Regions from separate parts of the Homo sapiens genome. Here region 2 is linked to region 1. A link means that fine-mapping ties the variant in region 1 to the expression of a gene that starts in the linked region. Tissue or cell type: nucleus accumbens. Region 1 holds a variant in brackets; the other region holds the start of a gene. All regions are shown on one strand. Distances are from middle to middle.

Region 1 (8,177 bases):
AGACCCTCACGGTGCTGGGAAACACAGCCCTGCTGGCCTCGGACTGCAGGACAGAATCCTTACCCCTCCTGGGCCTCCGTTGTGTTCTTTCCAAAATGGGATAATGGTAGCAGGTTAATGGAAATAATTAAATAAAATAGTCCATCTAAATTCCTGGATCGAACGAAGGGTCCAATAAACATTAGCTGTGCTGTTGTAGTGCTCAGTGCCTCTCTCTCAAAAGCGGGTGGCAACAGACACCCTCACACCTTCGCTGTAATGAGAGCTCTGCAAAGCCAACTGCAAATATTAGGAATCAGTGTCCTCACGAGGCCAACCCCTTTCCAAGGCTGCTTGGAAAATGCTTTGCTAGACTAGCTTGGATCTTGCTGGCTTGACTCAGATCACAGTTGAGCAAATGTGCAGAAGAGGAAGAGATGAGGGAAGGCCTGGCTCAGTGTGCTCAGAGCTTCGATTTTGAGACTGTTCGGGAGGAAAAGTTCCTCACCAGACAGTGCTCTGCTACTCTTAAAGCTAGAAGGACAGAAAGATTTCTCCACAGTTGGGGTCATGGAAATGTGTATTTTCTCCAAACCTTTTTTTCACTGAACCAGTTGTTGGAGCCTTCCATTTGAGACCTTGTGATGCCTTCATGGACATTATTTCTGCTCATCCACACAGCCAGCAGGGACTTGTGCAGCAGGAGGGGCAGGCTCAGAGTTAAGCAGCTGCTCCAACGTCACACGGCTAGCCTGGGCCTGATCTGGAGCTTGTCCCAGATCTGGAGCTTCCCAGGTTTGGACCTGGGTCACTAGAGCAGAGCCTCCTTGCCTCTTCGTGGATATGGAGCCAATTCACTGTGGCCGATCACCAGCCTCACAGACTAAGGGGGCAGCCCTGCCCCTGCCTACGCCCCTACCACTGCTGAAGCCATCTCCTTGCCGACAAACACAAGCAGAAACTTCTCAGGATCTGCTGCCTCTTGTTCCAAGGATTAGGCGAGCTTCTGTCTTGAGGACAGAAGAGGCAGCTGGAAGATCAGGGTTGTGGTTGAAGAAGGCCTAGGTAAGGTGCCATGACTCAAATGTCCCTAATGGGTGAGGGCTTTCAACTTTTGGAAACTGCAGGGGCAATTTTGGAGACAATGTTTAACTATAGTGTAAAGACTGCCAGTTTAATTTCTAATCCTGAAGAAATGTATATGTGGTCACAGGCTAATATTTCTAAAAGTCATCGAGTGACTTTACGTGTCCTAGCCCCATATTTCCCCAAAGATGACTGTCTAAATGCCCCTAAGAGAGGCTTTGGAGTTCCTTGACTTCTCTGAATTGTTGTAGTAAAGATAAGGCAGAAATTTTGAAGAGATCAGAAAGAAAAACTTTAGAACAAATCTCGTCTTTTCTAGAACTGTCTTCATTTTAATTTACTGTCATATCAGATAACCTGCCAGATGGCTTTTACTGTGTCTGAATTGAGTCAGACCAGCTGGGATGGGATCCTGCCTCCAGCAGTGGTGGGCCCCAGGAACATTTATTTCATCTCAGCATCAAGCATTCCCAAAGCAGCAGGGGCTAACGGGGCCGTAGAGATTACCCCTGCAGCTGTGGGGCTGGCCAGCCACACTTCCATAGATTTGTCTGTAGGGAGACATTGAGCCACATGGATTTGGACAGGTTGTTACATACGCAGACAGCAAAAGCTAAATCAGCATGACATGTCGCTCCTTGTGTCCCTCGTCCCACAGGAGGACACAAGGCTGGAAGGTTGGGACACCAGATGGCATGGACAGTGGGTTGCCCTGCTGTGCAGCAGCCAGCTCTCAACTGCAACCGAGCACTCTACAGACTTAGCAGGCACCTGCAGACGTAACTTGTGGGAGTGGGGAGAGAGGAGGAAAGCGCTGCGCTCAACAGAAACTAGGAAGATCGATGAGAAATGGCCTTGCAGCAGTTCCAAAAGGGTGGGGAGGCAGGTGAGACCACTCACGGCAGCGATGCACAGGGCCACTTAACGCCCCTTGCTCCATGAGGAGTTGCAGGGTGTTCCACCAAGACGCAGGTCAGGTTGCCGTCGAGCCCGGTGGAGATGTGCAGGGTTGCTGGGCACCTGGCAGAGCTGGTCCCTGACACGCACTTTTATCATCAGTAAAATGGGGATGTTAAGAATACCTACCGCAGGTATGTTTGACTTTTTTTTTTTTTTTGAGATAAACTTTACATAAAATTCACCATTTTAACCATTTCGAAGTGTACAAATTAGTGGCTTTTCATATCTTCACAGAGTTATGCAACCGTCGCCATTATCTAATTCGAGAACCTCTTCAACACTCCAGAAAGAAACCCAGTGCACACGAGCTGCCACTCCCCACTCTCTCCTTGCCCAACCCCTGGCAACCACTAATCCACTTTCTGTGTCCATGGATTTGCCTGTTCTGGGAATTTCATTTAAATGGAATCATATACTCTGTGGCGTTTTGCGACTGACTTTTTTCACTTACCATGTTTGCAAAGTTCATCCAAGTTGCAGCATGCGTCAGTACATCATTCTTTTTTATGGCCGCATAATAGTCCATTGTGTAGATCATGTTTGTTTAACCTTTCATCAGTGAATGGACATTTGGGTTGTTTCCTCTTTTCAGTTATTATGAATGATGCTGTTCTGAGCATGAATGTAGGAGGTTTTGTGTGAACATATGTTTTCAATTCTCTTGGATATACCTGGGAGTGGAATTGCTGGGTCACATGGTAATTCTATGTTTAATGTTTTGAGGAACTGCCAAATTGTTTTCCACAGGGACTGAGTATTTTATATTGGTATGCACTTTTGAAATAATAAAAAACACTCTTAACAGAGTCTGGCCCACACCATTCATTCTTTTATCCCATAAATATTTATGGAGCACTTACCGTGTGCCATGCCTTATAGACATGGAGATACAAGGGTGACTAATGGACAGCCCTGCCCTCAGGAAGCTGGCATCTATGTGTGTGTGTATGTAGGGGTGTGTGTGTGTGTGTGTGTGTGCACATAATGTGTATATGGGGTAGGGAGGATGTCAGATGGTGATAAGAGTTATGGAGAAACAGTCCAGGTGCAGTGTCTTACGCCTGTAATCCCAGCACTTTGAGAAGCTGAGGTGGGTGGATCACCTGAGGTCAGGAGTTCGAGACCAGCCTGGCCAACATGGTGAAACCCTGTCTCTACTAAAAATACAAAAATTAGTTGGGTGTGGTGGTGGGTGCCTGTAATTCCAGCTACTTGGGAGGCTGAGGCAGGAGAATAGCTGGAACCCTGGAGGTGGGGCTGGGGTGTACCGGGTGGGCCTGGGATCCCTGTTTTCATTTGGGTAGTCAGAGAAGGCCTCACCGACAAAGAGAAGGAGGCAAGGAAATATGGATCTTCCAAGAAAAGGGGACTGCAAAGGCAAAAGTCCCAGAGCTGTGGCATGCCCGAGGGACAGCAAGGTGGTCAGTGAGGCTTGGGGGAGGGAATAGAGTAGCAGGGGATGAACCCCAAAAAGGAATAAGAGCCACAGCCTGTGGGAGCCAGGGGCTGTGGTGAGGACTCCGCCTTTCCTCTGAGAGGGAGGAGCGGCAGAGGGATTGGAGGTGTAGGTTCTGACAAGATTACCCAGGTGCTGTGCTGGGACATGGAAGTGCGGGGGCAGGCATGCCACTTGGAAGCTATAGCGATGACCCTGTGGGGATATGATGGAGGCCTGGGCCAGCGGCAGCAGTGAAGATGGTGGGAAGGGGGCAGTTTCTGGAAAAGTGTGGAAATAGAGACAGCGGGATCTGCTGACGAAATGGATGTGAGGTTCAAGAAAAAGAGTAGAAAATGATTCCAACAGGTTTTGGACTGAGCA[A/G]CTGGGAAGCTGTGCTATTTAGTGAGCTGGGGACCTCTTTGCTTTATTCACTGGAGAACCCCAAGTGCCTAGAACAGTGCCAGGCACTTAGTAGATGCCCAAGAAACTGACTGAGTAAATGAAGAGGTGGTGGGATCCATAGTAAAGCCTCAGTTGATGTTTATTCTTTGATACCTATGGTCTCCTGACCTAGGGTGATTCCCGTCCTTCCCCAGCTCTTGAACTCCTCAGATAAAGAAACTTGAGCTTCCACGATTTTTACCAGGTCACTGACCCTCATGGAGTTTTGCCAGAATGACTTAGAAGTATTTGAAGCAGGATGGGGCTAATTAAATCAATGTGCTGTGTTTGCGTAGAAGTTATCTGGCTCTGTCTTTGCTCCCAAGCAAATCCCACTCTTTCTTTCCTTATTTATTTATTTATTTTTTGACAGAGTCTCACTGTGTTGCCCAGGCCGGAGTGCAGTGGCGCGATCTTGGCTCACTGCAACCTCTGCCTTCCTCAAGTGATTCTCATGCCTCAGCCTCCTGAGTAGTGGGGGTTACAGTCACCCACCAATGCCCCTGGCTAATTTTTTGTACTTTTAGTAGAGATAGGGTTTCACCATGTTGGCCAGGTTGGTCTTGAACTCCTGTCTTCAAGTGATCTGCCCGCCTTGGCCTCCCAAAGTGCTGGGATTACAGCTATGAGCCACTGCTCCTGGCCCAAATTCCACTATTGGTCACCTTTGGGTCCCTGTTATGTTGGTTGCCTTCTGAGGCACCTGCCATTTTTTTATGGTTACTTCACACCAGGCACTGTATTAGCACATTATTTAATACTATGATTAGCTACATTTAAGAATGAGACAATAGGCATACTGTTTAATTAAAGTTAATTAACTTGGCCAAGATCACACAGCTAGTAAGCGGTAGGGCTAAGATTGAAACTCACATCTGTGCTTGTAACCACAGCACTTTATCTTCTCCCTGTTCTGGGTGGATATTTACTTGTCAGGAAGGTTTCCATGGGAACTCCTGCACCCAGAGAGCAATTAGACCTTTCCAATTCTAAGCTTTAATTCCAGAGTTCCATTCTCCAGGTTTTCCCTAACTTCACCTCCAACCCAGCTTGATTTTGAGTCCCATCCACTGCCCTTGACACAAAAATGTGCATCTCCTTATCCCCACCGTGAATTCCAAGTTCTAACATCTGATCAAGCAAGACCACCATTTTCCCTTTTTCTTTCACAGCGCAGGCAATGTCAGTAATCCAGGAAATTCCGCAAATTTTACCTCCCCAGAATTGACCTACCAATTATTACCCATGACTTGCCTCCTAGTCCAAGCATGATCTGGGTACTTTTGAGGTAAGAGAGAGAATCCCAAGAGAGAGAACCCTAATTTCTAATACAGAAGATTCACATCCATTCTCATGATTCATTGTAATTTTTCCAACCACTTCTTTTTACAAACTTAATTCCATTCTTTCTCCCAGCCAACATCTGTTATGGCTGGCTACAGAATTTATAAGCATCTAAAAGCTATCTTACAAACACTTCATCAAATGCTGTCTACTTGAAATGTAACAATGTCTAAAATGTGTGCCTTACAACAGTATAAGATGTGAAAAGTGCTATTTGTTGCAACCTTTACATTTTAGGATTCGTGGAGTAATCAACCAACCCACCCCAATCCTTGGTGGCCAGACTCTACCAGAGCTGAAGGCAGTTTGAAAGACAGCTGTGTGAAAAGAATGTGTTGCCCAGGACCACTGGACAAGCGCCTGCGAGTGGACATGGTGGGTTTTGGTTTTCTTAGGTGGACTTGTTCGGGGCTTTATAACCATAGAATGGTGAACACTTGGAAAATACTATGAAAGGATTAAAAGTTTTATCGAAATATGCCAAAAGTGTTCTTAAAAAGATCCGGCCAGGCATGGTGGCTCATGCCTGTAATCCCAGCACTTTGGGAGGCCAAGGTGGGCAAATCGCTTGAGCCCAGGAATTTGAGACCAGGCTGGGCAACATGGTGAAACCCCATCTCTACAAAAAACACAAAAATTAGCTGGGTATGGTGGCATGTGCCTGTAGCTCCCAGCTACTCGGGAGGCAGAGGTGGGAGGATAGCTTGAGTTCAGGAGATCTAGGCTGCAGTGAGCCGAGATTGCACCACTGCACTCCAGCCTGGGAGACAGAGTGAGACCCTGTCTTAAAAAAAAAAAAAAAATACAATCCACCATCCTCCTCAGAACACAGTGACTTGGGGGACAACCCTAGAGCCCTAGGCTGGAGTGAAAGGCATTTGTTCAGGTAGATACTAAAAGGTAATTTTCACTACTTGCTTTTAAACCTGCCATTGGCTTGGCCGGGCACGGTCGTTCATTCCTGTAATCCCAGCACTTAGGGAGGCTGAGGTGGGCGGATCACCTGAGGTGAGGAGTATGAGACCAGCCTGGCCAACATAGTGAAACCCCGTCTCTCCTAAAAAACAAAAAATTTGCTGGATGTGGTGGCGCGGGCCTGTAGTCCCAGCTACTCAGGAAGCTGAGGCAGAAGAATCGCTTGAATCCGGGAGGTGGAGGTTGCAGTGAGCCGAGATTGCGCCACTGCACTCCAGCATGGGCGACAGAGTGAGACTCCGTCTCAAAAACAAAACAAACAAACACCAAACAAACACACAAAACAAAAAAAACCCTGCCATTGGCTAGAGGCAGTTGAGTGTTCAAAATGGGGAAAAACAACCACCAAAAGCCAACAGGAACTCTGAAGAGGGAAAAAAAAAATGGATAAGGAACAAGTCTTGTCCCTTCCGGTCCTGAGTGGGTGGGGCTTATGTTCATGCTGAAGTTCAGGGGGCTCCTTCTCAAGTCCTTCTTTCTAGTCTTGCCCTGTGAAGCTGTAAGTAGAATCAGTATTCCAAAGTCCTTTTCTGGACTGAGGAGAGAGGCCACATGTTCACCCCTCAGGCTCAGACACCAGCAACAGTGGTAACCAGGGTGGTCCTGAAAATTCCGTAGGCAAATGGAACTGAAACTGCAGATGTCACTGGAAGCATTAATAAAACACACACACACACACACACACACACACACACACACACACACACAGAAACAGGAGAGGACGCAGACAGGGACAATAGGAGTAATGGTATTTCACAGGGGATTTAAAACTATAGAAATGAGGCCAGGTGTGGTGGCTCACGCTTGTAATCCCAGCATTTTGGGAGGCCGAGGCAGGTGGATCACCTGAGGTTAGGAGTTTGAGACCAGCCTGACCAACATGGTGAAACCCCGTCTCTACTAAAAATACAAATACAAAATACAAAATACTAAAAATACAAAAAAGTAGCTGGGCGTGGTGGCACACATCTGTAATCCCAGCTACTTGGGAGGCTGAGGCAGGAGAATCATTTGAACCCAGAAGGCGGAGATTGCAGTGAGCCGAGATAGTGCCACTGCACTCCAGCCTGGGCAACAAGAGCAAAACTCCATCTCAAAAAACAAAACAAAACAAAAACTATAGAAATGCCGAAACACCAGTGCCACAGATGACCAAGTCTGTGTTGAACATTACTGACATCTTAAGATGACACAACACTGAAGTCACACTCAGCTATCTCAGTGAATGCAATGGAAACTGAGGTGCACAACACAAAGTTTATTCAAATCAGAAAACAGATAAGCTTCATGACAGGTGGTGATGTTATAAAAGGTAATCTATATCAAGGGTTCAGTACAAATTAGTCTCGGAGCCTGATACAATATGCAATTTATTCTAAAGTACTGTATCGTCAGTGTGATATTTTCCAAGGTAAGTCTGAATCGTGAGTGGTCAGCACACATGGTGGCTGCTATCCGATAGGGCAATTCAACAGACACTGCTAATTAGCATACTATATATTTAAAAATGGACTTTTATGGGGAAACTAGTGTCTTGTTAATTGTCATGAAAGGTTCTCGTGGGCAAAATTAAATGGATTCAAGGCTGGCCAGAATAGCTTTCATGACTAGGGGGTAAGAATCCATGAACTCTCCTTCAGTCCCTAGCGACAGTGGCTGAGGCCTGTGTCTGTTGGTCCAGTCCACTTGCCAATACAGGAGTATTATAGAATCTTACCCCAGGAATATTGCTGCATCTACCTCAAGAAAACCTTATATACAGGGTGTGGTCTCCTTATATACAAGGAGAGAGAGCTGGGACTCCATCCAGCTTACAGAAGAGGATGCTTCTGGGCTGGCTTCACTATTAAATGAATATGGATCTCTTATGTGTGAGGCAGATTCCAAATGCTGTCAGTCTAATTTGGTAGATTTAAGGGAGCAGCTCACTCACCAGCTCTGATTGGTCACGTGA
Region 2 (8,177 bases), 350 kb before region 1:
AGGGTCAGGTGTTGCAGGTCAGATCAGCCTGGGTTAGAATCCTGGTTCAGCAGTTGGGTGCGGTGGCTCATGCCTATAATGCCAGCACTTTGGGAGGCCAAAGCAGGAGGATCACTTGAGCCCAGGAGTTTGAGACCAACCTGGGCAATAGAGTGAGACACAGTCTCTCCAAAAAAAAAAAAAAGTTTAGCTGGGCGTGGTGGCATATGCCTGCAGTCCCAGCTACTCAGGAGGCTGAGGCTGGAGGATTGCTTGAGCCTGGGAGGTTGAGGCTGTAGTGAGCTGTGATCACAGCACCGCACTCCAGGTGCCGCGACAGAGTGAGACCCTGTCTCAAAAAAAAAAAAAAAAATCTTAGTTCTGCTACTGAACTAGCAATGTGACACTCTGGACAAGTTAGTTACCCTCTCTGAGCCTCCCAAAGACTTCATGTTTCCAGCAGGAATAATGATAGTAGATGTGAGGACGCACCAAGCACATAGTAGGCTCTCACAGAACAGTAGCTGTTCACAGGGTGATTGAGGCCGGGGGCCTAACGATTGAATGGAAGTGAACACTGCAATTCTCTCGCAAAGTTTACAGCACAGTAAGCTTGTCCTTAGCTTCCCCTATACCCTCCTTCCCACGCCCAATTCTAGGACCCTTTCGGGCGCCCCAGCCTCCCATAGGGGCTCCCCGCCAGCTCAGACCGGCCGGGCCCCTCCCTCTGACTCACCGGGGGCGGCTCCTGGCCGCGCACCTCCAGGGGGCGGGGGGCGGCTGAGACAGCGCCCAGGGCCTCGGAGCAAGGCGTTGGCAGGCAAGTAGTGCGCTTCGGGGTCCGGTCGCCGGGGACCTGGGCTCCCCATGTAGGGGTCGAACGGGCTTAGCCGGTTCGGGGGCGCCCCGCTCCCTCCTCTTCTCCCACAGCCGGGGTCCTCTCTTAGGGGCGCGCCGTCTCCTGGCTTCCTGTAAGAAAAGGCGGGAGAGGGTGGGTCCGTGCTAAAGAAATACTTTATTTTACTTCATTTGGGACAAACTAAGCAGTAGTGCTCAGGGGAGACCACAAGGGTAGGAACACTGTGCGTCTGGTAAAAAAACTAGTTCTAGAGCGTCGTTACCAGATAACTCATTAGCATGTGCATTGAGTTCCTAGCCGCTCCCGAGAGTCCTAGGCTGAGCGACCGGCCCTTTTGTTTCGCTGTTGTTGTTGTTTGTTTTTTGAGACGGAGTTTTGTTTTTATTGCCCAGGCTGGAGTGCAGTGGCGAGATCTCGGCTCACCGCAACCTCCGCCTCCCGGGTTCAAGCGATTCTCCTGCCTTAGCCTCCCGAGTAGCTGAGATTATAGGCGCCCGCCACCACGCCCAGCTAATTTTTGTATTATTAGTAGAGATGGGGTTTCGCCACGTTGGTCAGGCTGGTCTCGAACTTCTGACCTCAGGTGATCCGCCCGCCACGGCCTCCCAGAGTGTTGGGATTACAGGCGTGAGCCACTGCGCCCAGCCAGTTGTTTCGCTGTTAATGTGTAAACCTCTCCCCTTTTTTCCTGTGGTGATAGGAGAGGCTTTAGCCTAGACAGCTGAGTGTGAGGAACAGTGATTCCCATTGATCCTTGTTCCCTCCGTGGGTCACAGAGTCCAGAACTTAAGAGCCACCCAAGGTATGCGCTGTTGTGACCAAAATCTATGAAGCTTTCCAGCGCTGGGGCTGGGGATGGAAATAGGAGAGTGCTCTGTGGTTTAACTTTCTTTCCTCCTGTGGAGAAACCGGGAGCTAGGGGAGTGGCCAGGCACATTTCTACCTCAGGTGCTGATGGCACATTGCAAACTAAAGGGAAGAGAAAGAAGTCTGGGTTTATCGAGCATGTATTATTTGCTCATTAATCATAGGATCTCATTTCATCTTCACATTTAACTGTATGCACGTGTTACAGATTGGGGCACAGGGAGGCTCCAGGAGGTTAAGTCACTTGCACAGCTAGTAAGGAGCCAAATTGTCTAGCTCTTATCACTCTACCAGGTTAACCGCCCAGCCTGTGGTTTTGTGGGGACTAGGCCCTACTGGGATTCTCACCCAGACTATCCTTTTTTTTCTTTTTTAAACTTTTAAGTTCAGGGGTACATGTGCATGTTTGTTATATAGGTAAACTCGTGTCATGGGGCTTTGTTGTACAGATTATTTTGTCTCCCCGGTATTAAGCCTAGTACCCATTAGTTATTTTCCTGAATCTCTCCCTCCTCCCACCCTCCACCAAACTACCCTATTATTATTGTTATTATTATTATTTTTTGAGACTGAGTCTTGCCCAGTCACCCAGGCTGGAGTGCAATGGCGCAATCTCGGCTCACTGCAACCTCTGCCTCCCGGGTTCAAGCGATTCTCCTGCCTCAGCCTCCTGAATAGCTGAGATTACAGGCATGCGCCACCACCCCCGGCTAATTTTTTGTGTCTTTAGTAGAGATGGCGGTTTAACCATGCTGGCCAGGCTGGTCTCGAACTCCTGACCTCATGATCCACCCGCCTTGGCCTCCCAAAGTGCTGGGATTACAGGCGTGAGCCACCGCGCCCGGCCCATATTACCCTATTTTTAAGCCTGGCAGTTTGGCCATGGAGACACTTGGATGCTAGCTACAGGCCATGTTCTTTGGGGAGAAGATTTAACTTCCCGTCTTGCTCTAGTGAAATTTTATCAATTTCGTTTCAATGAGAAACATTCATCCAGTATTGCTTTTTTTTTTTTTGAGATGGAGTCTTGCTTTGTCTCCCAGGCTGGAGTGCAGTGGCGCCATCTCGGCTCTCTGCAGCCTCCGCCTCCTGGGTTCAAGTGATTCTTCTGCCTCAGTCGCTCCAGTAGCTAGGATTACAGGCACCCATGACCATGCCCGGCTAATTTTTGTATTTTTAGTAGAGACAGGGTTTCACCATGTTGGCCAGGCTGGTCTTGAACTCCTGACCTCAGGTAATCTGCCTGCCTCAGTCTCCCAAAGTGCTGGGATTACCGGAGACAGCCACCATGCCCAGCCTATCCAGTACTGTATTTTCTCCAGACTTTTCCCACGCAGTCAAATAATGAGGTTTTGTTTGAAGGTCTGCTAATTAGGAAGATTTGTTCCAGATTTTGCTCCAGGGTCCCCAGGCCTTGACCCTGAACCTGGAGCCTTGTCTCAAGCCAGCCTGCTGACCAATACCTTTCCAGGACAGGCCGGCTAGGTTCTGGGCAGAGGAACTACGCTTGTGTGGCTGCATAACTGGGTGCTCACTTTCTCCTGGAGCCTCATACTGAGTCCGCTCATCCTTCCCCCAGGGATTCAGAAGGGAATGGGAGCCTCCCTTGCAGGGGCTTCCACTCCCTGTGTGTTTGTGGGCAGTCTCTTGTGCTCTCAGGACCTCGGTGTCCTCCAGAAAGCCAGCGAGTTGGAGGAGACAAGCTCTAGGGTCTAGTGACTGTGATGTAGGCAGGATAGTTGCCCTGGGTCAACCCAGGATGGGCTGTCTCTCAGAGGGCCCAGGGCCCAGAAGTCATGATGATAAACATCTGGTGAATGAGAAGCAGACCAAAGGGTAGAGACCTGAGAGGCATCAGCATGGCATGCGGAAGATGGTGAAGAATGTTTTATGGCCTCAGCCATTCCCTGAGAACTGAGCTTAGCCAGGTGCAGTAGCCCACGCCTGTAATCCCAGCACTTTGGGAGGCCAAAGTGGGAGGATTGCTTCAGTTCAGGAGTTCTAGACCAGCCTGAGTAGCAAGACTCTGTCTCCAGAAAAAATAAAAAAATTAGTCGGGCATGTTGGTGCAGGCCTGTGGTGTCAGCTGCTCAGGAGGCTGAGGCAGGAGGATCGCTTGAGCCCAGGAGTTCAAGGCTGCGGTTAGCGGTGATAATGCCACGGCACTCCAGCTTGCGTGACAGTGAACCCTGTCTCAGGAAAAAAAAAAAAACAAAAAAAACCAAAAAACTGATCTTAAAAAAAATCAAATACTTGCATTCAGGGCAAGGAGAAAGACAAACTGAGGGAGGAGGAAAAAGTAATGTGAAGCCAGTGACCCTGCCCAGAAAATGTGACTAACCCAGCAGCGGTGGGGGCTGTGCCGCGCCTGCCCCAGGCCCTGAATGGAGAACATGGCTTTCCTTGCTGGTCTCAGACTCAGAGATGCCCTCCCTGATTTGCCTTGGCTGTGACCTGCAGCGGGCTGAGGCCACTGTGGTGGGGCTGTGTGGACCTCCAGCCTCCCTGTGTGCCCCTCTGAGGAGACGGCCTGGCATACCCACTGCCCACCCCAGTGACTGCTCTTCTGCTTCAGGCCTGCTGGCCTCCCAGCACTGCCTGCCCCTCCCTGTCGGGGGACATCGCCTCCACACCGGCTGGGGAAGGAGCCCAGGGGTGGGGCTGGTGGGTGGGGCTGGTGGTTGGGGCAGCCAGAGAAGTAAGAGGGAAGTGAGAAGCCGGGTGGGGCAGGCTGGAAGGAAGACGAACCTACGAAGCAGAGGTAGGAGGAAGAAAGGAAAGTAGGAGTGTTGAAAGGTGAAGGTGGCAGGGTGGCTGCCAGCGCGGCTGGCTGGTACCCTCCTGGGTGGGCAGGCGAGGGCTGGCTGTGGTGGCCTGGGAACAGAGACCCACATTTCTGGATACCACATTGTGCCAGGGTGGAGTTCCCCCAGCCTGCTGTCCTGCCAGCCTTATGCCAGGCTCCAGGCACCTGATCTGATGGCAGCTGTGAAGCTGCCCGGGAGGATGGGTGGGCTGTGCCCATGCTGCACATGGAGGAACTCTTGGGTCAGGGCTTGTCCCAGCTGTGCCAGACCTCCTGACGGAGGCCACCACACTGCTCCTGAAGGCCCTCAGCCAGACTGGAGGTGAAATCAGATTAGAAGCTGCCTGTCCCCAAGACAGGACTGTGGTGTGATGCTATTTGGGTGGGAGTGGCTTGGGGAGGGGGCAGGGCAGTCCTAGCCATTTGAATTCAAATGCAAGTGGCACATTTGATTATTTTGCAAACTCTGGAAGACCTTGGCTGAGGGTCTAGGTGGACTGTCTGAGGTAGGAGGTGGGGAGGGAGGAAGTGGTTGACCCTGGGGAAGGGTAGGAGACCTATTTGGTATCAGGGGAAAAACCATTTGGAATCCCCAAATGAGGCCTCTGGACCTAGATTCTGAGAATGCCATGTCCCAGGCTGGGAGATTCAGTTTGGTTTCGAGGGTGGGCACCTACCTCCACCAGGAGAAGTGGAGGTGCTGTTTCATTTCACACCTAGGGGCAAGCAGGGACTGTGAAGGGAAGAGACCTATTGGGGGTCAGTGGAATCAGGGTCTGAGGAAGGCAAAGGTACCACTGGACCCCGGCAGGATTTTTGTCCCTCTGATGGCTGTCAAGTCTTTCCTTAAAGGTGTGTGTAACGGTGACCTCCTCTCCGAGGTCCCCCAGTGTGTCCTCAAAGACAGCCTAAGTCAGGACCATGGGACAGCCAGCAGGACTTGCGTCCTCCCCTCCCCCAGCCCCATGGCAGTCTGGGACCCCTAGCCCCTGCTCTCTGCCTCCTGGGGCTGCTCCAGCCTGTCCCAGCCTTTTGAAATCCTGGGCTATCCCTTAGGTGCCACCCCAGTCTAATAATCAGAGCCCAGCAGGTCCAGTTAATCAAATGCATTCTTTGAGCACCTGCATGAGGTTCCAGCTAGATCCAGAGGCAAAATACACTTCCTGCCCTAAAGGACCCTACAGTGTAGTAGTGGAGGTAGGCGGGTCCATAACTCACCACACTATGGCAGAGTGGGGAAAAGTAAAGGCTTTAAGAGGTGTAGAAGAGGCTGTTTGGTAAGGTGGTGAGTTTCCCATCACTGGAAGCCTTCAAGAAGAGGATGGTAAGGGATGCTATAGAAGAGATTTCTGCACTATGCGTGTATGGGTATGTGTAGGGCGGTGCAGGCAGAGCAGGACTAGATAAGAACTTTAGCGCTTTCTTTTTTTTGTTTTATTCCTCCCCCCCGGCCCCAGCTCCCCTCTTCAACTTTAGCACTTTCTAATGCTGACATCTGTGATTCTGTGACATTCCCCACTTAGAGGAAGTTCGTCTGCGGTTTCACTGGGTATGGTGGCTCCCTTGTTCACTGCACCCTGCAGCTAAACCATAAAACATGGGCTATTCTTTGTCTCTGTGCATGTCACCCCCAGTGCCAAGCCCCCAGCACAGACGTTGAGTGGAATGGAATAGACTCTTTGCTGGGCTGCTTGAGGAACAGAGGCATCAGGTGTGTCCTTGCTCCAGTTGAGATGTGAAGCAGCCAGTTTATGCTATAAAACAGGCTAAAGTATGTGCTCCCAGGGGAGAGGGCTGGGAGAACTCCCAGAGAAGGCGGAGGCCACTTAATGTCCTGGAAGTTTCCTTGGACAGCTGGGGCTTGATACGGGCCTGGAAGGATAAGGGGGCTTGTGTGTGTGTGTGTGTGTGTGTGTGTGTGTGTGTGTGTGTGACAGATTCTTCCTCTGTTGCCCAGGCTAGAGTGCAGTAGTGCCATCTCGGCTCACTGCAACCTCTGCCTCCCGGGTTCCAGCAATTCTCCTGCCTCAGCCTCCTAAGTAGCTGGGACTACAGGCACGCACCACCATGCCTGGCTAATTTTGTATTTTTAGCAGAGATGGAGTTTCACCATGTTGGCCAGGCTGGTCTTGAACTCCTAATCTCAAGTGATCCACCCGCCTCAGCCTTCCAAAGTTCTGGGATTACAGGCATGAGCCACTGTGCCCAGCCTAGGATGAGGGGGCTTTAATGGATGTAAGGGTGAACATGGACACTGAGGAAGCTCAAGGAGCTGTGGGCTTGGACAGAGGGCTGGGATAGGGGAAAGAATGAAAGGCCAGAGGTCAGGGTGGACCCTTCCCCAGGAGAGACTGGAACAAAAGGTCTCGGGACAGAGATCTAATGAGGCAGCAGGAGTTTCAACCCTGACCAAGCATTAGAGTCATCTGGAGCTTCTCAAACACTGACATCCAGGCTCCACCTAGAGAGTCTGGTTTTAATGAGTCCAATATGGAAGCTAGTCACTGGGGTTTTTCTTTCTTATTTTTCTGTAAATTACTTTTTTTTTTTTTTTTTTTTGAGACAGAGTCTCACTCTGTCACCCAGGCTGGAGTGCAGTGGTGTGATCTCGGCTTACTGCAACCTCCACCTCCCAGGTTCAAGCAATTCTTGTGCTGCAGCCTCCCAAGTAGCTAGGATGACAGGTGTGCGCCACCACGCCCAGCTAATTTTTGTATATTTTGTAGAGACAGGATTTCACCATGTTGCCCAGGCTGGTCTTGAACTCCTAAGCTCAAGCATTCCACCTACCTCAGTCTCCCAGTGTGCTGGGATTACAGGCATGAGCCACCATGCCTGGCTGGCACTGGGGTTTTTCAAAAGCCCCCAAATGATTCTAATGTGCAGGTGAGCATTTGACACTGTTCTGGACAGAATTCACTGGCACTACTACCATCACTTTGAACATATGTTCAAAATATGGGTGATCAAGCCCCATTCCAGACCTGTGGAATCAGAATCCCCAGACCAGGGGCTTGGGCACTGTTAAAGAAAAAAAATATGGCCCAGGCGCAGTGCCTCACGCCTGTAATCCTAGCACTTTGGGAAGCCAAGGTGGGCAATCACTGGAGGTCAGGAGTTCAAGACCAGCCTGACTGACATGGTGAAACCTCACCTCTACTAAAAGTACAAAAAATTAGCCAGATGTGGTGGTGCACGCCTCTAATCCCACTACACAGGAGGCTGAGGCAGGAGAATTGCTTCAACTCAGGAGGCAGAGGTTGCAATGAGCTGAGACTGTGCCACTGCGCTCCAGCCTGGGCAGCAGAGTGAAACTCTGTCTCAAAAAAAAAAAAAAGAAAATTACTAAGAGGAAACATCAAGGGTAAAGAGATTCTGGCTAGACTGAGCTAACAGGATTCCTTTTTTTTTTTGAGACGGAGTTTCGCTCTTGTTGCCCAGGTTGGAGTGCAATGGCATGATCTCAGCTCACTGCAACCTCTGCCTTCCGGGTTCAAGTGATTCTCCTGCCTCAGCCTCCCGAATAGCTGGGATTACAGGCATGAGCCACGAAGCCCAGCTAATTTTGTATTTTTAGTAGAGATGGGGTTTCTCCATGTTGGTCAGGCTGGTCTCGAACTCCCGACCTCAGGTGATCTGCCCGCCTTGGCCTCCCAAAGTGCTGGG

The links. PIP is the estimated chance that this variant, and not a neighbour inherited with it, causes the effect.
Region 2: it holds the start of CAPG, and the variant in region 1 is fine-mapped to the expression of CAPG in nucleus accumbens (GTEx, PIP 0.97).

Annotation. Positions count from the first base shown.
Region 1 is chr2:85,058,762-85,066,938 of GRCh38, reverse strand. It overlaps KCMF1 (potassium channel modulatory factor 1), which reads right to left. Exons shown (of 7, transcript NM_020122.5): 7 at 7,467-8,177. LINC01964 (long intergenic non-protein coding RNA 1964) reads left to right here. Exons shown (of 2, transcript NR_146453.1): 1 at 1-2,156; 2 at 2,260-2,829. Among named protein-coding and RNA genes, the nearest start is that of LINC01964, 4.5 kb to the left of the region's middle. The variant A/G (reference allele first, on the strand shown) is at 3,845.
Region 2 is chr2:85,406,606-85,414,782 of GRCh38, reverse strand. CAPG (capping actin protein, gelsolin like) reads left to right here and starts at 4,417. Exons shown (of 10, transcript NM_001747.4): 1 at 4,417-4,466. LOC105374841 (a long non-coding RNA gene) reads right to left here and starts at 1,072. Exons shown (of 3, transcript XR_940316.3): 1 at 716-1,072. RefSeq lists silencers at 657-736, 4,190-4,239, 4,350-4,399 and enhancers at 867-916, 812-1,313.